7 linked regions of the Homo sapiens genome follow. The protein of the gene in region 5 purifies or fractionates together with the protein of the main gene of each other region. This does not show direct contact. Each region holds a gene or a part of one and is shown on either strand. Other genes may lie near its edges.

Region 1 (3,500 bases), on a different chromosome or scaffold from region 5:
CCTGGCAGGCTGGGCCTCCCTTGCCCCCGAAGCTGCTCCCCGCCCACCTACTGGTGGCTGCCCCTGCACCCCGGCGCCCACGTGCCTGCTCCCGCGTGAAGTTCTTGTCGGGCCCCAGGAGGGAGGGCGTGATGAAGCTCTCCCCGGGCCTCTCCTGCAGCCAGAGGGGCTGAGATCGGGGGCCCCACCAAGTGGCAGGTGCGCAGAGCACCTGCACCCATCGTCCCTCTGATGATATCCAAGGCCTGGTGGAATGGCTTAATTTCTGGAATCTACTTTTTAATCCGTTAATGTACAACATGAGAGGGCAGGCAGATGGGATTTAAACATTTTTGCTCTAGAGACTTTTCTTATTTTGTTATTTTAAGGGAAACGCCACACATAATGCTCACCCCTATAAATAACCTTGGCGGTGGACAGTGGCCCTCCACTAAGAGCAGAGATGCCATCTGGTCAGTGGGTGGCAGGGAGAGGGACGGACTGGCCAGGAGCAGAAGGCATTTCATGAGGGGTCAAGGAGATGGCTCCGCCGCTCCAGCCCCAGCCCCGCCACCGACAGCCGGAGCCAGGGCAAGACCCTGTCCTCGCCTAGAAAGTGACCCAGCCTGGCGGTTAGCAGTGCTGGCCGTGGGACGAGACACAATCACACCGCACGGTGCTCTGAGCTGGGCACGCGGGAAGGGCAGCACCTCCACTGTCCCAATAGCACACTCCTCAGCTGCACATCAGTTTCACAATTCTAGGGTCTGGGAGGGTTGGGGTCCGGCTTCCGGCCAGGAGACACAGGGAACAAGAGGCATGCCGAGCGTCAGCCATGTGGGAGCAGAGGACGGGGTCAGCGGCTGGGATGGGCAGGTGAGCAGGCCCAGGGCCCTGGGATGGGGTGTCGGGGTGACCAGCTGGGCCGGCAGCCTGTGAGAGCGCTTTTCCAGGCTCTTCCTGTGCAGATGTGCCTTATGGACAAGGACCCCACAGCTCCAGGAGGAAACTGCTTCGGATACGGCCGCTCCCGCCTCCACCGCTCATGTGACCTGAGAGACCCGTGACTGGGCATAAGCCTATTAGAACAGTTTCAATAAGACCCTTTGTCCTCATGGCTGAGTAAAATGAAAATTCCTTCAATAATCTCTTTAGGTAAATAGCCACTAAGTCTCTGTGGAAGGCAGGTGCCCAGCAGGGTTGGACGTGGGCTTCCTCACCAGGAGGGCCGATGAGCACGGCCTGGCGGGTGGGGTGGGGCAGGCTCTCTCTCTGCAGGACACAATATCACTTTTTATCTAGCCTGGTTACTAGGCCGAAGCCAGGCCCCTCCATCTGATGGTGCCCGCTGCTGGGAGTGTGAGACCCCAGCCGGGTTCCCTCCAGGACCATATTATCAGCTGACACGGCCACTCACCCGCTCCAGCCTCAAGTGCTCACACATCCAACAGGAAAAGCGCCCTGGCCCCTGAAGCTGCTCCCCGCCCACCCATAGGCGGCCGCCCTGGCACCCAGCACCCACGTGCCTATTCCAGAAGCTGCTCCCCGCCCACCCACAGGCGGCCGCCCAGCACCCCGGTGCCCACATGCCTATTCCAGAAGCTGCTCCCCGCCCACCCACAGGCGGCCGCCCGGCACCCCGGCACCCACGTGCCTATTCCAGAAGCTGCTCCCCGCCCACCCACAGGCAGCCGCCCTGGCACCCAGCGCCCACGTGCCTATTCCAGAAGCTGCTCCCTGCCCACCCACTGGCGGCCGCCCCCGCATCCCGGCGCCCACGTGCCTATTCCAGACGCTGCTCCCCGCCCACCCACCCACAGGCGGCCGCCCGGCACCCCGGCACCCACATGCCTGCTCCCGCGTGAAGTTCTTGTCGGGCCCCAGGAGGTAGGGGGTGATGAAGCTCTCCCCTGGCCGTATCTGCGCCATGAAGCCGTAGAAGCAAAGGTAGCACACGAGGTGCCGCCAGGACCGGAGCTCGGGGTCAGGCCCAGGTTCCACGGGCACCTGCTTCTCCACCGCTGGGCTGGAGGGCACCATCCTGCTCAGGCCACGTGCAGCTCCGGAGGGGACGAAGGTGACGCTGTGCCTGGAAGGAGGGGTGGAGTCAGGGCACCTTGGAAGATGGTCTGCAGGCCTCCCTACCCCGCAAAACGAGGCCCAGTGCCGGCCTCCTCGCCACTCAGGACCAAACGCCACCCTGGAGACGAATGCAGACCCCAGACCCATCCTCACCCCGTAGCACCAAACTGGGAGCCACCCACACCTGAGCTGCTCCGGAGTCCCCCAGGCCAGGCTGTCACCACCTCCAGGGTCTCCGAGGCTGAGGGAAGTCTCCAGCCACATGGAGTGATTTAAGTGCCAATCAAAACCAAGTTAATTAACTAATTGACTTACTTTATTAACTAAACTAACAAAATTTAGGGTTTGGGGCCACACTAGACTCATGGCACTGCTGGGCAGTACCTGTGGCGGTCAGGGGGCACACCTCACCCCACAGGCCTGAGGGCAGCCCACGTGCCTGCTGCTGCTCTAGCGGCACCCAGGTGGCCCAGGGAGGGCACAGGCAGGAACGGACGCTGCTGGAGGCCGGGGTCACACCACAGGTGGCCAGCGGCGGGTGGCTGCAGGTACCAGCCTCAGGTCCCCATCAGCCGCGTGCCCTGGCAGGAGGGCGTGCAGGCCAAGCCCACAGTGAGGGAAGGGCAGAGGGAAAAGCAGGTGTCCTTGAGGGGGCTGAGAGCAGCCAGGGTTGAAACACGCGTGGGAGGGAGGATGGGATGGAGCCGAGGCCCAGCCCCTGAGCCCAGGGACCCCAGCATCCCCGGCGGCAGGTTACCCTAGACGAAAGCAGCTGGCAGGAGCCATGAGTGGACCTGACACGTTCCAGATGGAGCACCCCAGACCACAGGACTTCATCCACGAGGCAACATGCACCCAACCTTGGGGACCATCCCGCCAGCACCCCCGCCCCACACGGCCAGGGCACGTGGTGGAGCAGCAGCAGCACGAAGCACACTCGAGGGCGTGTCTCTTTCAGTCCTGATTCTGCCCAGGAGAAAGGCTCCTCCGGTGCGGGCAAGGGCACGTCTCACCACCACAAATCGTGCCTTTCAGCTGCGGGGCAAAAGCCTGTCCACTTATCAGAATCATGTCTCCAGGTGCCACGTGGCCCTGGTTTTCCATTAAGGCCTCGGTGTAAAGTTCTCCTTCAAGTAAGTCAAAAGTGAACTGCCATAAACAAGTGTGTCAGACGCCCACACCAAGCCAACCCCGTGAGGCCAGGACCTGGCCCTGGTCCCCCACAGGTGCACCTCACGTCTGTATCAGCTGACCTCTGCTCCCGGAGGCCAGGCCTGGCAGAGTGCACGTGGAAAGGCCATCTGCTGCTCAGGTGGGGTGGGGATGCAGCGCATGCAGAGGGCAGCTGAGCAGCCTTGTGGGGCGGGGTCGCCGTCCCATCTGCACTGGGCTGACAGTTGGACAATTGTGCCTCGCCACAGGGCCGGCTTGGGAGGGTG
Region 2 (3,500 bases), on a different chromosome or scaffold from region 5:
GAATTCCACAATTCAGCTTTCAAAGACTGTAATCTATGGCAAAGCCTTGTTTCTTCTTAATAGCATTTACCACATTTACAATTATCTTATTTTTTATGTGTTTGTTTTTATTTCCCACAGAAGAATGCAACTCCCATGAAGATAAAAACTATTCTTTTTTGTTCAGTGTGTCCCCATTGCCTAGCGTAGAGCCAGGCTCATAGTAGCTGTTCAGACATGTTGGGTAAATGAATGATGGCTGAATCTAGTAGTAACGAAAGCTAGTAGCCTATGTTACACTCTTTGACATGGTTACGCAATTGATAGTTTAACAATAACACTTAAAACTTACATCATTTGATTGTATACAGGAATATATCAGATACTTAAGGGGGTAGAGAAACCAATCGTTTAGAGGCCCAACCATTTCATTCAAAAAATAGGACTGACCTGAATTTTGTACTTTTTTTTGAGTTGAGCAAAATTCGTCTTCCTTTATTAAAGTTGTTAAATTATTTGCTATTAATGTAACGCATGAAAAGTATTCAAATTATACCAATGATGTGCTCATGGAACTGATTTGAAATTAGGTTTTATTTGGCTTATCAAAAATTTAAGATACTAGGCTGGGTGCGGTGGTTCATGCCTGTAATCCCAGCACTTTGGGAGGCTGAGATAGGTGAATCATCTGAGGTCAGCAGTTCAAGACCAGCCTGGCTAACATGGTGGAGTCCCCGGCTCCCCCCCACCCCATGGCCCGGTCTCTACAAAAATACAAAAATTATCCAGGTATGATGGCGGGTGGGAGCCTGTAATCCCAGCTACTCAGGAGGCTGAGGCAGGAGAATCGCTTGAACCTGAGAGGCGGAGGGTGCAGTGAGCTGAGATCATGCCATTGCACTGCAGCCTGGGTGACAGAGTGAGACTCTGTCTCAAGAAAAAAAAAAAAAAAAAAAAAAAAAAAAATATATATATATATATATATATATATATATATGTATGTATATTTAAGATACTACGCTCTATAGTGAAAATGAATTGTGTCAGTACATGAAGCAGATTGAGTTAATGACATCAATCTTAACCTTAGATAAATTCTTACGGTTTAATAAAGGAATGTTTGGCTGGGCGTGGTGGCTCACGCCTGTAATCCCAGCACTTTAGGAGTCCGAGGCAGGCAAATCACCTGAGGTCAGGAGTTCAAGACCAGCCTGGCCAACATGGCAAAATCCCATCTCTACTAAAAATCCAAAAACTAGCTGGGCGTGGTGGCGTGTGCCTGTAATCCCAGCTACTCAGGAGGCTGAGGCAGGAAAACTGCAACCCAGGAGGTGGAGGTTGCAGTGAACTGAGATTGCCCCACTGCACTCCAGCCTGGGCCTCAGAGCGAGACTTTGTCTCTAAATAAATAAATAAAGGAATGTTGAAATACACAATTGGAAGTTTCCTTGAGGAGTCTGTTTTGTTACTACCTCTGGCTATTGTCTTGAGATGCAGAGGCAGTTTTAGTAATGTCACTCAGTGGTTTACAGTAGAAGATTTCACTATATATACATGTTACCAATTATAAATTAGGAGATGTAATGGCAGAGAGAAGCGCATACTCAGCCTACTACTGTTTTTTTCACTTTATATTGCCTTTTCTTTTTTTCCATCAATGCTGATCAAATTGCAATATGTTAGATAAGGAAAAAATGTCTTATTGTCAGAGACTAGCAGTACTGACCAGTTGTTTTTCTTTTGAGACGGGGTCTACCTCTGTCACTCAGGCTGGAGTGCAGTGGTGTGATCTCAGCTCACTGCACCCTCCACCTCCCAGGCTCAAGTGATCCTCCCACCTCAGCCTCCCAAGTAGCTGGGACAACAGGCACGCACCACCACGCCTGGCTAATTTTTGTATTTTTTTGTAGAGATGGGATTTTACCATGTTGCCCAGGCTGGTCTCAAAGTTTTGAGCTGGCGAGATCCTCCGGCCTCAGCCTCCCAAAGTGCTGGGATTACAGGTGTGAGCCACCACGCCTGGCCAGTACTGAACATTTTATATTGGCTAGATCAGTGGTTTTTAAACTTTTTTTCCCCAAGACCCCTTTCTGCTCTTACAAATTTTTGAGGATCCTGAAGAGCTCTGTTAATGTAGTTGTTATTGTTGTTCTTCTTCCTCCTCCTCCTCTTCTTTCTCCTCCTCCTCTTCTTCCTCCTCCTCTTCCTTCTCCTCCTCCTCTTGTTCTTCTTCCTCCTCCTCCTCTTCTTTCTCTTCCTTCCCCCTTCTCCCTTCCTTCCCCCTTTCCACCTCCCCCTTCCTTTCCTTTTCTCCCTTCCTTCCTCCTTTCCTCTTCCCATTTCCTTCCCCCTTCTTGGATGCAGTGACTGTTCACAGGGGCTATCATGGCCAACTGCAGCCTTGTCTCAAGCTCTCCTCCTGCCTCAGCCTCCCTAGTAGCTGGGACTATAGGCACATGCCACTGTGCCTGACTTTTGTTTATGTAGTTTATGTCAACATTTAGGCCGGGTGCGGTGGCTCACGCCTATAATCCCAGCACTTTGGGAGGCCGAAGTGGGTGGATCACCTGAGGTCAGGGGTTCGAGACCAGCCTGGGCAACATGGCGAAACCCCGTTTCTACTAAAAATACAAAATTAGCCGGGCATGGTGGTGCGTGCCTGTAGTCCCAGCTCTTCGGGAGGCTGAGGCAGGAGCATTGCTTGAACTCGGGAGGTGGAGGTTGCAGTGAGCCAAGATCGTGCCACTGCGCTCCAGCCTGGGCAACAGAGTGAGGCTCCATCTCAAAATAAATGAATAAATATATCAACATTTACTGTATTGAAAAAGAAAATTTCAAAATATTTAATATGTTAAAAAATAATAGGGCCGAGCGTGGTGGCTCATGCTTGTAATCCCAGCATTTTGAGAGGCCGAGGTGGGCGGATCACTTGAGGCCAGAAGTTTGAGACCAACCTGGCCAATATGGTGAAACCCCGTCTCTACTAAAAATACAAAGAAATTAGCCTGGCATGGTGGTGGACGGTCCCAGTGGTAGTGCCAGCTACTCAGGAGGCTGAGGCAGGAGAGTCCCTTGAACCCGGGAGGTGGAGGTTGCAGTGAGCCAAGATCACGCCATTGCACTCCAGCCTGGGCAACGAGCAAAACTCCATCTCAAAAAAATAATAATAATAATAATAAACCCATTGCATGTTAATACCCTTTTTTTTTTTGACTGCATCCCTCTGTTGCCCAGGATGGAGTGAGTGCCTCCCGGGTTCGCGATTCTCATGCCTCAGCCTCCTGAATAGCTGGGACCACAGGTACATGCCGCCATGCCTGGCTAATTTTTTGACTTTTTAGTAGAGACAGGGTTTTGCTATATTGGCCAGGCTGGTCTCAAACTCCTGGCCTCAAGTGACCTGCTTGCCTTGGTCTCCCAAAGTGCTGGGATTACAGGCATGAGCCACTGTGCCCAGCCTTCATGTTAACATCATTTCTGAAATGAAAAAGAACTATTTTCCAAACAGATATTTAGTGAGA
Region 3 (3,500 bases), on a different chromosome or scaffold from region 5:
CTGGGGTGGGCCATTTGGGGAGTCCTCTGCACCTCGCCACACCCCGCCCTCTTCCTGCTTCTGTTTGACACCTCCACCCCGCCTTTTGGCAGATGACAGACTGGAGAGTAAACAGCAGATGCGTCTGGCAACGCATGCAATGGAGGAAAGAGGACGGAGCACAGGAGGTGGGACAGGGCAAGGCGCAGCTGGGGCACCAGACCAGAGGATGGCCAGGACGTGCCTGTGGCCAGCAGTGCCTGCAGTGTTTGGCAGAGGGAAGGGGACAAGGCAGAGGGGAGGGGAGGGCTCTGCGTGTTGGGCATGGGACTGGACGCCTCTGGCTCCTAAAGAGTCCCACCGGCTATGGAGGGGCGTGCCAGGTAGTGGCTTCCATACCGTTCAGGCAGGTGTAGGTAGGAACTGGACGGTGGCCAAGGGCAGGTCACCCTGCCTGGATCAGCTGTCACATCTGCAGAAAGGGGCAGGAACACCCACATTTGGCTGCTGGCCTCACAGGCAGCTTCTAGAGTCTGGCTGGCCCTTTGTCTATACCACAGGCCGTGTCTAGGGGACAGAACAAGGGGACCCAGGGCATGGCAATGTTCTGAGCAGAGAAGGTGCACAGGGAGCCGTGGGGACAGCGTAAGCCATTGGGCCTTAGGGCAGGGGCCTCGGTCAGCTCCTAAGGCTCCCCCAGGTGCAGTGTCCGTTGCGCCATTTTATTACAAGACGCAGAGCCGCTGGGCCAGCACTGCTAATATCTTTGAACACACCCGCCTCCCTGGTGTGGTTCCCCAGCAGCTGTCCCTGCAGCGGGAGGCCTTGGTCCAGAAGGGTTATGTGGGACATGGGCGCAGGAAGGACAGGTGAGGCTGACAGGCTTGGTCATTCCAGGGACCATGAGGGCTTTCGCTGGCTCAGGTGCCCCTTTCCCCTGCCGTTGCCCCTGTTGGTGCCTGCTAGACCTCCTGTGCACAGAAGGCCTTGGCAGAGGAGAGAGCCAGGCCTGGGGCAGTAAAGGAGAAAGCTTCCCCTCCAGTCCTCTGAGGGCCCCGGACTTAGATGGCTTTCAAATGAGTGTCTGTCTTCAGCAGCTCACCCTCCCAGCTTTTTCAGAAACCAAAGAGTAAATTGCTCACGGCTTCTCTAAGTGGCTCACACACAAAAAACCCGAGTCATTTCAATGGCTGGACCCAGAAAATCGAGCCCTCTTCTCTCCTCCCTGTCTCTGGCCCCCAACTCTGCCTCAGTTGCCCTGGGGTCTCACTGTCCCCTCAAGACACTGCCCCTGCAGGCGCAGGCAGAGAGGCCTTTGTTCCCCTCAGCTGTGTCCCCTCAGCTGTGTAGAGAGGATGCTGCCGTCGGACACGTGGTAACTGAGCCTGCTGCCACCCCCACCCGTGATGGTCAGTAGGTCGCGTGCCATCTGGGGCTACTAGAGCCGGCCCACTGTGCATACTACATGTGCCTGCTGGGTGCTCTGGGCTCTTCTCGCACTCCTGCACTGGCAACCGCTTATCTTTTTGAGCTGGGTCTTAAAGGTGGAGAGGTCTGACCAAGGGGCGGTCACTCACACTGGCATTCCAGTGAAGGGCATGGCCCATGCAGAGACCAGGGGTGATATACCCGTGTCCTCCTACCTGCAGACCGTGACGGTGCTGGGGAGGGGAGGGGGCACCAGGCCACATCGGGAGGGCAGCAGGTAGACGCTCCAGCCCCTCCACGGCAGAGGCCCTGAGCTTTGCAGGGGTGAGGAGGCTGTCATTCAGAAACGTCGCTGCCAGGGAGAAGGGACTTAGAGAAGGGAGCCTTGTGGCTGTGGCCCATGGCTGCCCTCACCACCAGGCTCCTGCCTTCAGGTGGCCAGGGGCCATCTGAACGCCCAGGGGACCTGGGTATGGGGTTGGTGTAGACCATGTCTTGGCCCTTCCCAAGGTGCCGGCTTCACCTCCATCCCTCTGTGCTCTGGTGCTGACCTGGCATTTGCAGTTATGTGCCCTAGTGGCAGCCGCTCGAGCTTGGCTGCCAAGACCCACGGTGTGGTCAGACCACTGTGTGCGGCTGAGGAATGAGTTCCTCCCAGGAGGGGAAAGCCCTCGGGTCAATCGGGGCCCTCGTGCCCACCCGTCACTGCAGGCCAGGATCGTGGCAGGTGGCAACCCCAGCTTTGAGTGCTGCGTCTTCTGGGGCTGCAGCCGCCCACTGTGAGCAGGAGGGTGAGGGCAGGTAGAGTCTGTCCTGCCATGAAGCTGGAGGCTTTGACAGCAGGGGCGGACAGAACTGAGCAGAAACACTTCACAGCCTGGCCACGAGCTCCCCGCTTTGTGCTCCCTCCCTCGCATTTCCCCGTGTTCTGCACCCCCAGAGCTGAGGAGCCAGGGCCCTTGTCCAGGAACAGGCTGGATCGAGGCCTGGTGCCTGCATGCATTCCCAGGTGGGAGCCAGGCAGGTGACCCGGACCCTCCACCAGCCCAGAAGCAGCCCTTCCACCGAGGGGCCTCACACCACTTCTGCCTGCTCCCTCAGTCATTAGGCCCAGCGCTGGCTAGGTGGCTCCAGACATGACCAGCAGGCTCTAAGGCTCATCAGCGTCTTCTGGAGCCTGCACGATACACACACAGGCACAGGCTACACCATGGGAGACCCCATCTGCAGGGTGCCAAGCCCTTGCATGCTTGGGCCTCTGACGGGATCTGTCCCCGCTGCTAACCAGGCACAGGGCAGCTTGCTCTGCAGGTCTTCCAGTCAGCTAGCACAGACCCTGGCCAGTGTCATGACTCTGTGGCCCTGGGCAAGTCACACACCCTCTCTGGGCCATGGGCAGAGGAGCTCATGATGGAGGCATGCCTTGGGCTTCAGGGGATGGTCCCTGAATGGGTGTGGGGCTGGGGCTGAAGGACCCGCCTGTGGGCTGGGGCGCTGAAAATGGGAGAGGAACTGAGCCATTTGTGTTTCCCAGATGGGGCCTGCTGCACTGTGCACAGCGTGTCCTTGCCCTCAGAGTCACCCTTGGGGCCAGAGTCCTTGTGGCTGTAACTCACAGGGTCATTGGCTGGGGCTAGGAGGGCAAGCTTCTCTGTTGGTGGACACATCACACTGTGGTTTTTTGTGTTCAGAAGAAACCTGCCACACTGGCCTGTCTCCATCCATTTGGTCACGGCCCCACAGGAGTGGGGAGCGGAGGTCCATGCGGCCCTATGCCTCCCCTGGACACAGGGTCAGCTAGGAAGGATATGGATAGCCTCTTCTGAGCAGTCAGGGCCTCGTGAGCCTGAGGCAGGAGACAGAAGCCTGCCCCGGCCGCCTCGGGCCCTTACTCCCTGGCCCTTGGTCATTATTGTTTCTAAAACGTTTGTCTCACCTGCTACCTGAAGAAGGTCCCGCCCTCTGGCCCTTGAGGCCCCGAGTGCCCAGGAGCTGCTGCCATCAGCATGGATGGGTGGTACCAGGCAGGCTGTGGGTGCAGGGTGCTTGGGGAGGGCCAGGTGTGCCTTGGGACGTGTGAAGTGGGAGCCTGG
Region 4 (3,500 bases), about 11 Mb from region 5:
GTGTTAGCCACCTCGCCTGGCCAAGAGTGTTATATCCCATTGTGCTCTGCAAAAGTCCTGAGATTCTGATTGTAGTTGATTAGGTCATGTAGCAGTTCTTGACTCAGTTACTGTGGCCAAGAAATGTGGAGGGCACTGATTGCCTTAACCTAGATCAAATGTTGTACACCTGAAGCAGAGATTGAGTCAGCTTTCTTGGAACTGTTTTGATCTCCAGAGGGAAGTCTGTCGGGAGAGGGAGAACAGATACTGCATGTCCACTACAAAGTGCTTAGCACAGCATATTAATTCAACCTTTATCAGTTATTTGATGAGCAGCTGCTCAATGCCAAGCACTGCATGGTCTTTGCCATCAAGGAGGATGCTCTCCAGTTGAAATTACTGGAGGTATATGGAGTAGCCAGATGCAAATTATTTATAAAGGTACTTTCCCAGAATTTGGGGGTTAACTTTTTTAATTAGAAAAAAAAAGATGTTAATGAATTTTTAGTAATCATACAATAGGATCTCAGTTTTGCCTTGTTTAAGGGAGAGCATCTCTTAACCAGTTTAGAATTGTGTTAGAATCTGAAAATTTTGCATTTCTTTTATGTATTTGTACCAAATAATTTTGTTTAACTGTTAATTCAACCTTTTGTTACTATGACCTAATTTTATTTAACCCCTTCTGGAAGAGTCCCATACAGTTCGAATATTCAGATCTGCTTGGCTGGTACAGTTATTGCCAGCAAAGTGGTGGTAGTGGCCACAAGTATGGGGAGTTATGCATTGGTGTATGGGCTATTTCTTACATATTAGAATTATGTAATTCTGTGTATTCTTACATGTTAGAATTATGTATATTCTCTGATAGACATTTTCCTAAATCAAATTGGTACTAGGATCACATCAGGAGACAGTGTCTCTCTTTCTCACTCTCATCTATAGATGTCGTTTCATCTAAAAAATTTTCTACGAGAATAAAGTGCATGTAAGAATGTTAAAACCTTGTTTACATATTTGCAATGTGATTGAAGTAGCTATCTTAATAAACATTTTAAGATCCTAAAGTTAGCAGTTTGTCACTGTCAGGTATTTCAACATAGATGTGTGTTCTTTTTCATATTCCCTGTACTCTTCAGTTCTTACATGACTAATGCACAAGTATAGTAGCTTGTATTTAGTAGGCATTCAGGTGGCTTTTAGTAAATTGTTTTAATTCATTTGAATAGAATTGAAAACTACCAATTTACTAAAGTCTCTTGTGTTTATGTTTTGGTTTAAATTAAGAAATTTATGAAATCATCAAATTGGTTTCCTGGCTAAAAATTAAAAGAGTTAGTCTATTTCTACCTTAAAAGTGTTTTGAACGTTCAATATAATTCAGAGTTATTGCAGTTTACTTGAAACTGCTTAATTAAAACTTACTTCTCTCGCCCAGGCTAGAGTGCAGTGGTGCAATCTCAGTTCACTGCAACCTCTGCCTCCCAGGCTCAAGTGATCCTCCCACCTCGGCCTCCCAAGTAGCTGGGACTACAGGCTTGTGCCACCACACCAGCTAATTTTTGTATTTTTTATAGAGATGGGGTTTTGCAAGGTTGCCCAGGCTGGTCTCGACTTCCTGCACTCAAGCAGTCTGCCCACCTCGGCCTCCCAAAGTGCTGGGATTACAGGTACGAACCACTGTACCCAGCATGCTTAATTAAAACTTATACATACAAATGAATATTACTTATAAATGTTCTCTTAGGAAAAAATAGTGAATTAAATATTTAAAATAATTCAGCTATATTTCAAAGTACTTACAGTGTCCCTATTTTTTGTGGACTGAGTTAGAACTGAACAAATTAATCCTGATTGTTGGATTGAAAATAGAAAACTTGGCCAGGCGCGGTGCTTCACGCCTGTAATCCCAGAACTTTGGGAGGCCAAGGTGGGCGGATCACGAGGTCAGGAATTCAAGACCAGCCTGACCAATATGGTGAAACCCCCATCTCTACTAAAAATATAAAAATTTAGCCAGGTGTGGTGGTGCACACCTGTAGTCCCAGCTACTCGGGAGGCTGAGGCAGGAGAATCACTTGAACCCAGGAGGCAGAGGTTGCAGTGAGCCAAGACCGTGCCACTGCACTCCAGCCTGGGTGACAGAGCAAGACTCCGTCTCAAAAAAGAAAAGAAAAGAAAAGAAAATACAAAACTTTACATAGTGTCTGCATTTTTTGTTTAGGAACAGATGTTGTTATTGTAAAGAATGGAAGAAGAATATGTGGAACAGGAGGTTGTTTAGCCAGCGCACCTTTACATCAAAACAAAAGCTATTTTGAATTCAAAATCCAGTCCACAGGTTGGTATAATGGTACTTTACTATTAAAAGTCCTAATTGTTCTAAATATTAAGAGTAATTTGTAACACATAAAAAAGATTCAGAAGGTAATATAAAAGCACCAAACTCTTAGAAGATCTGGGTCTTCCACCTCTTGTTGTGTGATCCTGGGTAAATTAGTTAATTTAGTTAAATTAGGTTCAGTTTTCTCATCTATAAAATGGGTATTACAGGAGCTGCCCATTCTGCCTCACAGGAACTCTATGTATGAAAGTGTTTTAAGACAAGACATGCTGCATAAATATAAGGCACTAGTATTTTTAATGGGATCCGGATGAACCCTCTTGTTTGGTCAAGCATATAAGGTCAAACATATAAGCAGCATATACTCTTGCTATTTATTTTAGGATTAAAGTCAATCTGTTGATTCTGAGTTTTTCTTTTTTTTTTTCTTTTTTGAGATGGAGTCTTGCTCTGTCACCCAGGCTGGAGTGCAGTGGCGCGGTCTTGACTCACGGCAACCTCCGCCTCCCGGGTTCAAGCAATTCTCTTGCCTCAGCCTCTTGAGTAGCTGGGATTACAGGCATGCACCACCATGCCCAGCTAATTTTTATATTTTCAGTAGAGACAGAGGTTTCACCATGTTGGTCAGGCTGATCTCAAACTCCTGATCTTGTGATCTGCCCTCGTCGGCCTCCCAAAGTGTTGGGATTACAGGCATGAGCCAGAGTTTTTCTCTTAACTCAGTTATTAAGATACCCTGATTCAGTGTTTTGAAGCAGTCATCAAATTCAGAATTCAGATAGAAGTCTGCAGTCTATATTTCTCTTTTTAAAATTTATGGAGTTTCTTGAACTGTAAAGCAATTCTATGTGATTATAATAGGTTAGTTAACTGTGCCTGTATTGTATATGGGAAAACTTTTAAAATAAAAGCTTTACTGTAAAGTGATCGGGCATAGTGGCTCACACCTGTAATCCCAACACTTTGGGAGGCCGAGGTGGGCAGATCACCTGAGGTCAGGAGTTCAAGACCAGCCTGGCCAACATGGCGAAACCCCATCTCTACTAAAGATACAAAAATCATCCAGGCATCGTGGTGGGCACCTGTAGTCCCAGTTACTCGGGAGGCTAAGGCAGGAGAATTGCCTGAACCCGGAAGACAGAGGCTGCAGTGAGCTGAGATTATGCCACTGCAC
Region 5 (3,500 bases):
TACTGAATCTCTTTTGCTTTATTTCTTTGTGCCTAGTACACAGTAGTCATATTTATTTATTAAATGACTAAATGTCTTGACACACAATGGGTACATTAGGCTACTTGCCTTCATACCATTAGGCATTTAATCCATTTCTACTTCTGATTCAGTGCTCAGCAAACAAACTTCTAATTATGACTTGGCTTCCTAATCATAATTGATTGACAAAAATGAGAATGTTTTGATCATTAAATCTTCTGATCTGCCATAAGACGTTAATCAACCATGTGAACTTTGTATATAAATTGGGAACTGGAAACTTTGAATTAAACTTTTGCACATTATCCTCCTGAGCTTGGGTGACTCATTGTGTGCTAAGAAAAAAAATCAAATTTCAGAACATGCGAGACCTCGACCCAGGTAAATTCATCATGGTGAGGAACGCCCTTCTAAAAGGCCTTGGAAATCATCTGATGGGGGTACTCTGGCATTCCTGAGTGATAAAGAGTGTCAATTATACAAAATTGTGTTTTATAACAATAGCAATTCTGTTCTGAGCATTTTACATAATTAATTCATTTAATCATCACCACAACCCTATATGAAAGGTTAGTCAGTTCCAGACTTGTTGTTATGTGTTAAACAGGAGTTCCCATAATCAAAATTCATTGAGTGTTGAGCAGGACAGATGATGCTAACAATCTAAAGTATCATTCCATCCTAGGGTGTAAACTATACTTCTTCCTTGGTCATTTGTCTGGGATACTAGTCTCAAACTCTTTAAGAAAACCTATCCTTACTAAAGGACCATAGATCAGGAAAAGACCTTGAGAAATTGCTTTACTTTGGCATCAACAACCTTTCTTAAATGGTGTAGTGAGTTTTGATTTGTTTCTGATTGGAGATTAATTCAATGGCTACCAAAATTCACACATATTGATGAAGCTGTAATCAGGGTTACCTGTGAAGAAATTATCTCTCAATCCACAAACCCAAGAAATCCAAAGGACCAAAAGCAGGGAGGTAGAAGTAAAGAGGACTGACCCACTCCCAGTCCATTCTTTCATACCTCTCTACAACCCTGGCCACAAGTCATCAAAAACCATTTCCTGCCGGGTGCGGTGGCTCACGCTTGTAATCCCAGCACTTTGGGAGGCCAAGGTGGGCAGATCACGAGGTCAGGAGATCGAGACCATGGTGAAACCCCATCTCTACTAAAAATACAAAAAAATTAGCCGGGCGTGGTGGCGGGCGCCTGTAGTCTCAGCTACTCGGAGAGGCTGAGGCAGGAGAATGGCGTGTACCCGGGAGGCGGAGCTTGCAGTGAGCCGAGACTGCGCCACTGCACTCCAGCCTGGGTGACAGAGCGAGACTCCATCTCAAAAAATAAAAAAAACCATTTCCCTTTATGCTTTAAGCTGCATGCATGTGGCCATGAAATGTCATTTAGAATGCATCTCACTTCTTGTCTTAGAACAAGTTCCTTAATAACCCATTACAGCCTATAACAAACCTAAATTAAACCTATTACTGTTCTTTATTTGTTGCTAAAATACCTCAGGCTTCTTCAGTTGGTTCAGCACTCTGTACATACCTTGGTAATAGCAGGTATGGGTTTAATGATACTGCAATCTGAATGAATACCTCACATCCTGCTATATTGAGCTCTTGAGAAGTAAGGCTGCTTTTCTTTGTCATGTTGCCTGGCCCAGGAGCTGACAAGCCAGTAGTACTCATTGAAAAATGAATGCTTGTTAGAGGAATGAATGAATGTTGTCAGTTTTCATTATCTACTGATCCCCTGCATTATGGTAGAGTACTCCAGCTTTTTAGTTATTCACACATTTAGAACAGTAGACAGAGTATTATAAGCTTTGGGTTAAGACAGCTTTGGGTTGTGCCTCTCCCATTTGTAAGCTCACTTCAGAGACGGCAACCTTTCTGAACTTTAGTTTTTCCTCATCTGAAAATGGGACTTAACTACCTTCTTTGGAATCCTCTTAAGTGAGATAATGTATGGTGAAACTAATGAAAATAAACATTCTTTTCCCTTTTTTCTTCTCATGGATATTTTTCAATTGACATTTTTGTGTGTTTCTCAGGTGTGGGTTGCTGACCGAGGAAATAAAAGAATCCAAGTATTTGATAAAGACACTGGGGAGTGGTTAGGAGCATGGAATAATTGTTTCACAGAAGAGGGACCTTCTTCAGTCAGGTAATTGTTTCATTTTATTGCAAAATGCTTGTTTTAGTTAGTGTATGTGTCTCACTTCCTCTGAATAGCTAGCTGAAAGTTTAAAATATTTATTGTTAATTTTGAATTAGGGGAAAATAGAAATATACAGAGAAATTTGATATCCAAGATTTTCAGATGCCAGGTAAAGTGAAAACAAGAAATAACATATGCTAGACCTCTCCTCTAGCCTTTATTTGGTAAATGTTTAAACAGGACAAAAATCAAACCCAGCCTAACATCAATTCTTCATTAATTTCATTTTGTGGACTATGATATTGATACTTTTAACAAATTTAAGCTAATCTTTGGCTTTGCTTACCATCATGGACATCTTATTCCTTCATAAACAGAATTAGATCAAATTAAAATTCTTCTTAAAAGAATCATTCAGCAAGTAGGTGCCTACTGTTGTTTGGCACAGTAGGGGATTAAAATGTTGAAAAAAAATACCCTTATGTTTTTTCACAGACATTTATTATGTTAAATGTCTTTCTCCTTAGGTTTACTCCTGATGGGAAGTACTTGATTGTGGCCCAGCTGAATCTTAGCAGGCTCTCAGTCGTAGCAGCACCCCCAGTGGGAAGCATTGGGGAGTGTTCTGTGATCAGCACAATCCAACTAGCAGATCAAGTTTTGCCACATCTCCTAGAAGTCGACAGAAAGACTGGAGCAGTCTATGTAGCAGAAATTGGAGCAAAACAAGTACAAAAATATGTCCCTTTGAATAGCTATGTTCCTTCATTTGGTTCATAATGTTTCTTTCCTGGGAATATTTCAAGTGGCAGTTCAGATTCTCAATTCACTAAGTGCTTAAAAATGATGTTCAAGCACAAGAATTTATTTTTCTAGTATAAAAGATCTAGTATCAGAAAGATTTGTTTTTGTATCATTAAGAATCTTATATTTTGTTGCCCTCTTGGGACTTAGTTTTATTTGTAAGTGCATAAGGATATTTTAATGAAAGGAAAGTAACTAAAAAATGGGGTTGGGAAGAGGGACTAAGGTGGTAACCTCATTATTTGCCCTGGTAGACTGATTCTCCCTGGGTAAAAAAAATGGGAATAAAAATGAGCTTGCATGATAATTTATTAAATTTCATGTGAAGAACTCCAGACCTCCAGATTGTGCAACTAACATAAAATGAGCTGCTTGAGAGATTGTAAATAAGATGAACTATTGATTAATTTGAGTACCCACAGAGTGCTGTGTCTTGACGACTTAAAAATGAAAAAGCAGGATTGCCTTTTGAGTAGCTTGCAGTCTAGTGGGGAGACAAGCAGGC
Region 6 (3,500 bases), on a different chromosome or scaffold from region 5:
CTGAGGCTTCTGAGGACAGCTACCTCCCCTCCCCTTGGGTGTGCAGGCTGCCGAGTGGTGGGTATTGCCTTATAGCTGCTCTGCCCTGCAAGGCCTATCATGGCAGCTGAGGGGGGTCAGGCTGCCCAGAAGTGGCCTTGTCTCTCCTGGATTTTTGAGTGCACCTGGCTCCCCTGACTAGTCCCGGGGCCACCTTTCCCCTCCTCTCATCTGCAGAGCCTGAGGGTTCTCTTCAGAAACCCCTCTGGCCTTCCCCAAACTCTCCTGAGCTCCCATGGTGGGGACACCACTCAGTAGGGCCCTTCCTTCCCTAGAGGCTGCTGTGTCCTCCTCTGCCCACCCTCACTGTTCCCAAACTTGCCAAGTCGCGCGCGCATGTGTGTGTGTGTGTGTGTATGCACACACACGTGTGACCCAGTTCTCACTCTCCACTCTGAATCCCCAGAGTCAGGTCTCTCAGGTGGGCCCCTAAAGCCACTATTCCATGTGGCAAATCATGACACTGTGATCTTCCAGATGGGGTGATTCCTCTCCCACAAAGGGTGGCTGAACAGTGCAAGTGGCTCCCCAGGGCCGCAGGGCAGGGCCCGGTTCCCTCTGAAAGGCCCTACCCAGCTGATCTGTGTTGACTGAGCTCACACCCCTCCCTGGGTATCTGAGGGCACATGCTCACCCTCCCTCCTGCTCCTGGCTCACACCTCCCCTTCCCATCTCCCACTGGTGGCTGGCCCTGGCTTTCAGTTTATCCTCACTTTCTGCCTCCAGATCTCAACTCCTTCCAACAGACCTCTAAGTGGATCGACGACGTCAGGACAGAGAGGGGCAGTGATGTTATCATCATGCTGGTGGGCAACAAGACGGACCTGGCTGATAAGAGGTAGGTGCAAGGGCACACAGGTGCAGGGTGCCACCCTCCACTCCTCTGTAACTGCTCCTGGACAGGGAGCTCTGGGATGCATGGGTGGTGTGTCTGTGCTTCTGACCATGCATCCGGAAAAGGTCCCTTGAGACACTAGGAGCTTTGAGGACACCTGGTAGACTCTCATCCATGGGTATCTCATCTGTGAAGCCCTGTCTTCCACCACCAGGCAGGGGCGGGGCACTTCTCCGTTTGCTGTCTACACAGAGCACTGTGCACCTGGCTTGACCCAGCAGTGCATGGTCTAAGGCCCTGCCATGGCCACAGCCCTGCCCCAGACACAGCAGTCCTCTAGGCCCCAGCGTGTGCACTGTGAACTGTCTGTGCCTGTGAAGTGTCTGCACCAATGTGCGTGGGGCTGTGAATGCCCTGGGCCCTAGGTGTGAGCATGCAGAGCATTCAGACCACAAACCTATGGCCGTAGCCTGCTTAGCCTGGTTTGTGGCTGCGTCTGGCATGAAGCTTTCTCTGAAGAGGCTCCTCCATGCTGCCCTCCATGCACAGGGAGAACTGAGGTGCCATGTGTGTACATTGTCCACTCATTTTACATGACCCTGACTTGGGCAGATAAAGTGACAGGCCATGGACTCCAGCAAGCAGTGTGGGCTTCCTGCAGCGTCCCTTGACCACCTGAGGAATCATCTGAATTAGAGCCTGCTTTACTAGAGTTCTGTCCTTAAAGTAAGGAAAACTGGGCTCAAATCCCAGTACAAAGGGTACCCAGGCCCTTCATACCCTCACCCACTTCTGCCTGCCCCATCATGGAGCCCTCTCTGCTAAGTAGCTTTGTGGCCCTGGGGGAGACACTTTTAGCATTAGTGTTCTCACAGGGAAAATGCGACTGATAATACCACCCAGAGTGGCACTGCCTGGCTTGAATCTCTTCATAAGCACAGGCTCTGCAGTAGTGACTACTGGGAAAGGCAGGTATGGGGCAGCCCTACCCCAGGGCCTGCTTTGAAGCTGAGAAGACACAAAGGAAGGAGTGGGGGAAGCGGATAGTGTCCTACTGTTCCCTGGTGCCTGCTTTGTGCTAGCGAGACTGTGGTTGGTGCCCGGGAGGGACCCTTGGGATCAGAGCCTGTCTTCAGGACTGACCAAGGGCCCAGTGGGCTCCCTCTGCCCTGCTGGGTGGGTCCCTCCTCATATCTGCCAGGGTCTGCTTCTCTGCTGAGCTGATTTCCCCCCTTCCCCTCATCTCTAGGCAGATAACCATCGAGGAGGGGGAGCAGCGCGCCAAAGAACTGAGCGTCATGTTCATTGAGACCAGTGCGAAGACTGGCTACAACGTGAAGCAGGTGAGGACACACCTGGCACGGGGCCCGGCACGGGGCCCGGCACGGTGTAGCCCTGTGGTCAGCTGCAGGCTCAGAGCTGCCTTGCCCTGAAGGGCTGGTGATGGGATTGGGGCAGCCAACCAGAACACCCATAGATGCGCCCAGGGAGGGGAGAGCTAATTTCCGGAGCTGGTAAAGCCCAAAAGAGGGAGGGACCACTCCGGGCATGGCATCTGGAGAACATAAGTCACCAGCCACCGTAGTAGTTGCCAGTCACGGCCCACGTAGCAGGCCCTAAGAGTGTCCAGCCACCAGCTTCCAGGAGGCTGAGGGAAGCAGTGGTTCCCTAGCCCCTCACCCCACTTTGGATGACAGGTGCAGGAAAATTCAATCTGATCAGCATTTGGGGTTCATGCCTTGCGCTTAGCAAGTGCTCAGGGCTGTGGAGGGCAACTCAGGCCTGGGGGAAAGAGCCTACCATGATGTGGTTGGAACTCACAGGAGGGCGAGGCAGTGGAGTTAGGGCTGAGCCTTGCAGCATGAGGGCCCCTGAGTAGTCCATGGGTGGAATTTAGCAGGTCAGCAGACAGGGCTGGAAAACATTGCACCTTTATCTTCACTAACCACTGACCCGTCCGTAGCACTGAAGGACGTCTGATTTGTCCTTCAATGATGAATGTAGGCAATGACACTCAGTCACATTAGCAGTGCCTATGGCTTTACCACCAATAGAAATCACAGATGCCTTCCCATCACCTCATAGTGTTGCAGGTATCTTGAACTTCACATCTATCAGTGTTTCAGCATCACACTACTTATTAGATCTCTTGCTAGTTCTCGCTGTTCAATGTGTTTCATAAGGAAGCACAAATGTCGATGAAGTTTTATTTCAGTACTCAGTAGTCCCCTTTATCATCCTATGTAATTGATTTCACATACTTCAAAGGAGTCCATAGGATTAACCAGATTGCCAGAGGGGTCCTTGGCTCACGGAAGGGTTAAGAACTCCTGCCGTTGGGGATGAGAAGGACTTGGAGAGGTGGTGAGGAGGGAGGGCATGCCAAGCAGGGGAGCAGCAAAGGTGTGGCTGCAGGGTGCCCGAGGTATGGGGAGGGGACTCTGGGTGAGGAGTGTGGTTGGCCTGGCGGTCGCTTCTGCCCTGCCACCCCAGCATTGCTGGGAACCCTTGGCAAGCTGTGTATACAGCACTGGCCTTCTGGATGCAGTGATGGTTTGCCCTGTGTGGACAGTGCTGGTGGCAGTGGGGAAGGTGGGCTGGCAGAACGACAAGAAGAGACAAGAAG
Region 7 (3,500 bases), on a different chromosome or scaffold from region 5:
CAAAAAAAAAAAAAAAAAAAAGATCAGACAAAAAAAAAAAATCAGCTCACAAAATAGTTGGATTAGCTTCTGTGCTACAAGTTTGTTTATATTTTTCTTTTCTCTAAAACTGCTTATGAAATAACTCATAATGTGCAGGTTATCTTTCAGAACTGACCACCCCAAGGCCAGGGTACCCTTACCTTGCATACTAGGAAAAACAAGAGGCCCTGAGAGGTATCTCCCAGAGCAACTGATTGTACTAGTTAGTGTATGTATGTGTGTGCATATGTGTGTGTGTGTATGACAGGGTTTTACTCTGTTGCCCAGCTGGAGTGCAGCGGCATGATCACAGCTCACTGTAGCCTTGAATTCCTGGGCTTAAGTGGTCCTCTCACCTCAGCCTCCTGAGTAGCTGGGATTATAAGCACGTCACCACTTCTTTTTAATAGAGACAGGGTCTGTGTTGCCCAGGCTGGTCTCAAATTCCTGGCCTTAAGTGATCCTCCCACTTTGGCCTCCCAAAGTGCTGGGATTAGAGATGTGAGCCACCACGCCCAGCAATTAAAATCATTGTTAGCACTTCTTTCTCCTTGCTCCTGGAGCTGGGGTGTAGCAGTTTGGCAGGGTTCAGAGTAGGTATCCCCGCCCCATGGGCTCCTCCCTCACAGGTGTTATCCTGCATGTCAGCTGCAATACTGAACAGGATGGAGGCTGGCCTCCCACAGGCTGGGGCAGCATAAGGTCCCAATGTCCCTCTGTATTGCTTTGACCTTTTACTTCCCCCTTCCCTTCCTGTGGTGGGTGAGGGCTTGGGTTGGGAGGGAAGACAGTGGAAGCCTCTGGGGTAGTCATGAGAGCCTCTTCATAAAAGTGTTGGTTCTTATGCAAACAAGAGCCAGAGATTGCATCAGAGCATGAGTTCTGTCGTAAAACCAATAGCTACCAGATTCTGCCTTCTGTTTCCCTCTGCTTACTACCTTCTACCTGCTTCTCAATCTTAAAGCACTTAAGAACAGGGACTTTGCTTTTTTCCTTTGTATTTCCTGCAAAGCTTAGCACAGGGAGCTTGGCACATGGTAGTAGCTTGGTAAATATTGGGTGAATTAAATTGTTGGTGAAACACTTTATTTCTGTGGTTTGGAATAATGAAATATGCTGAAATGAATATGAATCTATTTAACCTGGATCTTTTTTGAGACAGAGTCTCATTCTGTCGCCCAGGTTGGAGTGCAGTGGCGTGATCTCGGCTCACTGCGGCCTCTGCCTCCCTGCTTCAGGCAATTCTCCCTGCCCCAGCCTCCCAAGTAGCTGGGATTACAGGTGCCCACCATCACGCCTGGCTAATTTTTGTATTTTTTTTTAGTATAGACGGGTTTTTGCCACGTTGGCCAGGCTGGTCTTGAACTCCCGACCTCAGGTGATCTGCCTGCCTTGGTCTCCCAAAGTGCTGGGATTACAGGCGTGAGCCACCGCACCTGGCCTAAAAAATATTTTTGATTTGGCCGGGCGCGGTGGCTCACGCCTCTAATCCCAGCACTTTTGGAGGCCGAGGTGGGTGGATCACCTAAGGTCAGGAGTTCAAGACCAGCCTGACCAACATGGAGAAACCCCATCTCTACTAAAAATATAAAATTAGCCAGGCATGGTGGCGCATGCCTGTAATCCCAGCTACTAGGGAGGTGAGGCAGGAGAATCGCTTGAACCTGGGAGGTGGAGGTTGTGGTGAGCCGAGATCGCGCCACTGCACTCCAGCCTGGGCAACAAGAGCGAGACTCCATCTCAAAAAAAAAAAAAAAAAAATTATCTTTGATTCAAGGGAAGGCTGGTGAATGGAGAGTTGAACTGCAATCTGGGATCTGCAAAGGGTACTATATATATTCTGCAATTGATTTTGAAATAGTTCTATTTTTTCACATCTGGAAAGTTTTGTGGCTACACTGGAGGTACACAACTGTCTAAAGAAGGAGGACCCAAAAGGAGGAACAAGTTGTGAATATTAGTTCTCACACTTCCTTAATATTGATTTGTATATCCAATGCTTCTTCTGTGCCAGCCACTCTTCTAGGCCCTAAGCTTGTACCAGACCAAACAGATAAAAATGTCTGCCCTCATGGAGTCTACACCCTAGTCGGGGGAAGGGGAGAAGACAGACTAGAAAATAAAATATATAATTTTTTTAAAGTACAGTGAAGAAAAATAAAACTGCAAAGAGGAATGGGCAACACTATTTAAAAAAGGAAGGCGTATTAAGGAAGGTTTCCCACAAAGCTGAATTCTGAGCAAGTGCCTGCAAGGAGTTGGGGAGACAGGCAGGTGTCTGGGGACAGCAGTCTGGACAAGAAGGGCCATGCAAAGGCCCCTGGAAAGAACATGCCTGGCACATTCCAGGAGCAGCACAAAGGCCTGTGGCTGGAGTTGAGGGAGTGAGGGGAAAAGAAAGAGGGAGGAATCACTTCCATAGTTTTTCATGGGAAAAAATCCCCACGGAGAGCAGACTCCAGACAGAGAATGTGGAGAGGAGAAAAAAGAAGGAAGAAAAAAAGATGCTGTGTTGCTGAGCTAAGCTGGGTTGGTGTAGAACATCCCCTGGAATCTGGGTTTTCTATTTTTATGATCTCTGAGGTCTACATTCCTGATAGATGCCAACAAGCAAAAAAACCTCCAGTATTAACAACTTGGGGCATTAGTGCCCAATAGCAGGATTTATTCCAGTTAAGTATCACCAGCATCATCTCCAAACATAATATTTACAATTCATGTAACTTTGCTTTCTTATAAAAATGTAATTTTCACAAGAATTTGCATTATCTGAAGTTAAAAGAGGTAGATAGAGAGAAATATGGTCTGTTGACAATACTGTCCAAGTAAGTATTGTGCTTTATTTATTTATTTATTTATTTATTTATTTATTTATTTATTGAGACAGAGTCTCACTCTGTCACCCGGGCTGGAGTGCAGTGGCACAGTCTCTGCTCACTGCAACCTCTGCCTCCCAGGTTCAAGCGATTCTCCTGCCTCAGCCTCCCAAGTAGCTGAGATTACAGGCGCCTGCCACTACACCCAGCTAATTTTTTTATTTTTAGTAGAGATGGGGTTTCACCACGTTGGCCAGGCTGGTCTTGAACTCCTACCTCATGATTCCCCCTGCCTTGGCCTCCCAAAGTGCTGGGATTACAGACATGAGCCACCGTGCCTGGCTGTGTCTTTCTTTCTTTCTGGGTTTTTTTTTTTTTTAACTTCAATCTAATTCTGATGCCTGGTTTTGAAACAGTTGTTCTCCACCAGCCAGCCTTGACTTCAAAGTCCAGGCACCTAAAGGCTGGACTTGCTTTTTCAGTCACACCCATCCACCACTGGTTCAGCCCAGCGTGGCTCTGCTCCAGGACATCACAGTCCCTTCCTCTTCATTTGCCATGGGCCCAGTTACCCATCTGGTGCCTCCACAGGAACAAGTCATGCTTGCTCCTTAGCTGGGCCTTTAAAATGTTACCTCTGCTGTGGTGGGAAGTTGATTGACA

What was found.
Region 1: the proteins of NHLRC3 (region 5) and SLC19A1 purify together in Homo sapiens (affinity purification with mass spectrometry; one large-scale study listed by BioGRID and IntAct). This does not show direct contact.
Region 2: the proteins of NHLRC3 (region 5) and RAB6A fractionate together in Homo sapiens (co-fractionation; one large-scale study listed by BioGRID). This does not show direct contact.
Region 3: the proteins of NHLRC3 (region 5) and HS6ST1 purify together in Homo sapiens (affinity purification with mass spectrometry; one large-scale study listed by BioGRID and IntAct). This does not show direct contact.
Region 4: the proteins of NHLRC3 (region 5) and SPRYD7 fractionate together in Homo sapiens (co-fractionation; one large-scale study listed by BioGRID). This does not show direct contact.
Region 6: the proteins of NHLRC3 (region 5) and RAB6B fractionate together in Homo sapiens (co-fractionation; one large-scale study listed by BioGRID). This does not show direct contact.
Region 7: the proteins of NHLRC3 (region 5) and MR1 purify together in Homo sapiens (affinity purification with mass spectrometry; one large-scale study listed by BioGRID and IntAct). This does not show direct contact.

Annotation. Positions count from the first base shown.
Region 1 is NC_000021.9:45,535,941-45,539,440, forward strand, and holds part of SLC19A1 (reduced folate transporter), read right to left. Parts: exon of another isoform or gene 2,899-3,500; coding exon of another isoform or gene 2,819-2,898; intron 2,069-2,818; coding exon of another isoform or gene 2,020-2,068; coding exon 1,831-2,019; exon of another isoform or gene 1,827-1,830; intron 1,430-1,826; exon of another isoform or gene 1-1,429. UniProt on the Homo sapiens protein: Antiporter that mediates the import of reduced folates or a subset of cyclic dinucleotides, driven by the export of organic anions.
Region 2 is NC_000011.10:73,754,575-73,758,074, reverse strand, and holds part of RAB6A (ras-related protein Rab-6A), read left to right. Parts: intron 1-3,500. UniProt on the Homo sapiens protein: The small GTPases Rab are key regulators of intracellular membrane trafficking, from the formation of transport vesicles to their fusion with membranes.
Region 3 is NC_000002.12:128,270,369-128,273,868, reverse strand, and holds part of HS6ST1 (heparan-sulfate 6-O-sulfotransferase 1), read left to right. Parts: intron 1-3,500. UniProt on the Homo sapiens protein: 6-O-sulfation enzyme which catalyzes the transfer of sulfate from 3'-phosphoadenosine 5'-phosphosulfate (PAPS) to position 6 of the N-sulfoglucosamine residue (GlcNS) of heparan sulfate.
Region 4 is NC_000013.11:49,929,841-49,933,340, reverse strand, and holds part of SPRYD7 (SPRY domain-containing protein 7), read left to right. Parts: intron 1-2,206; coding exon 2,207-2,323; intron 2,324-3,500.
Region 5 is NC_000013.11:39,044,956-39,048,455, forward strand, and holds part of NHLRC3 (NHL repeat-containing protein 3 isoform a precursor), read left to right. Parts: intron 1-2,084; coding exon 2,085-2,197; intron 2,198-2,718; coding exon 2,719-2,971; 3' UTR 2,972-3,500.
Region 6 is NC_000003.12:133,836,883-133,840,382, reverse strand, and holds part of RAB6B (ras-related protein Rab-6B), read left to right. Parts: intron 1-765; coding exon 766-877; intron 878-2,123; coding exon 2,124-2,217; intron 2,218-3,500. UniProt on the Homo sapiens protein: The small GTPases Rab are key regulators of intracellular membrane trafficking, from the formation of transport vesicles to their fusion with membranes. Rabs cycle between active GTP-bound and inactive GDP-bound states.
Region 7 is NC_000001.11:181,040,483-181,043,982, reverse strand, and holds part of MR1 (major histocompatibility complex class I-related protein 1 isoform 1 precursor), read right to left. Parts: intron 1-3,500. UniProt on the Homo sapiens protein: Antigen-presenting molecule specialized in displaying microbial pyrimidine-based metabolites to alpha-beta T cell receptors (TCR) on innate-type mucosal-associated invariant T (MAIT) cells.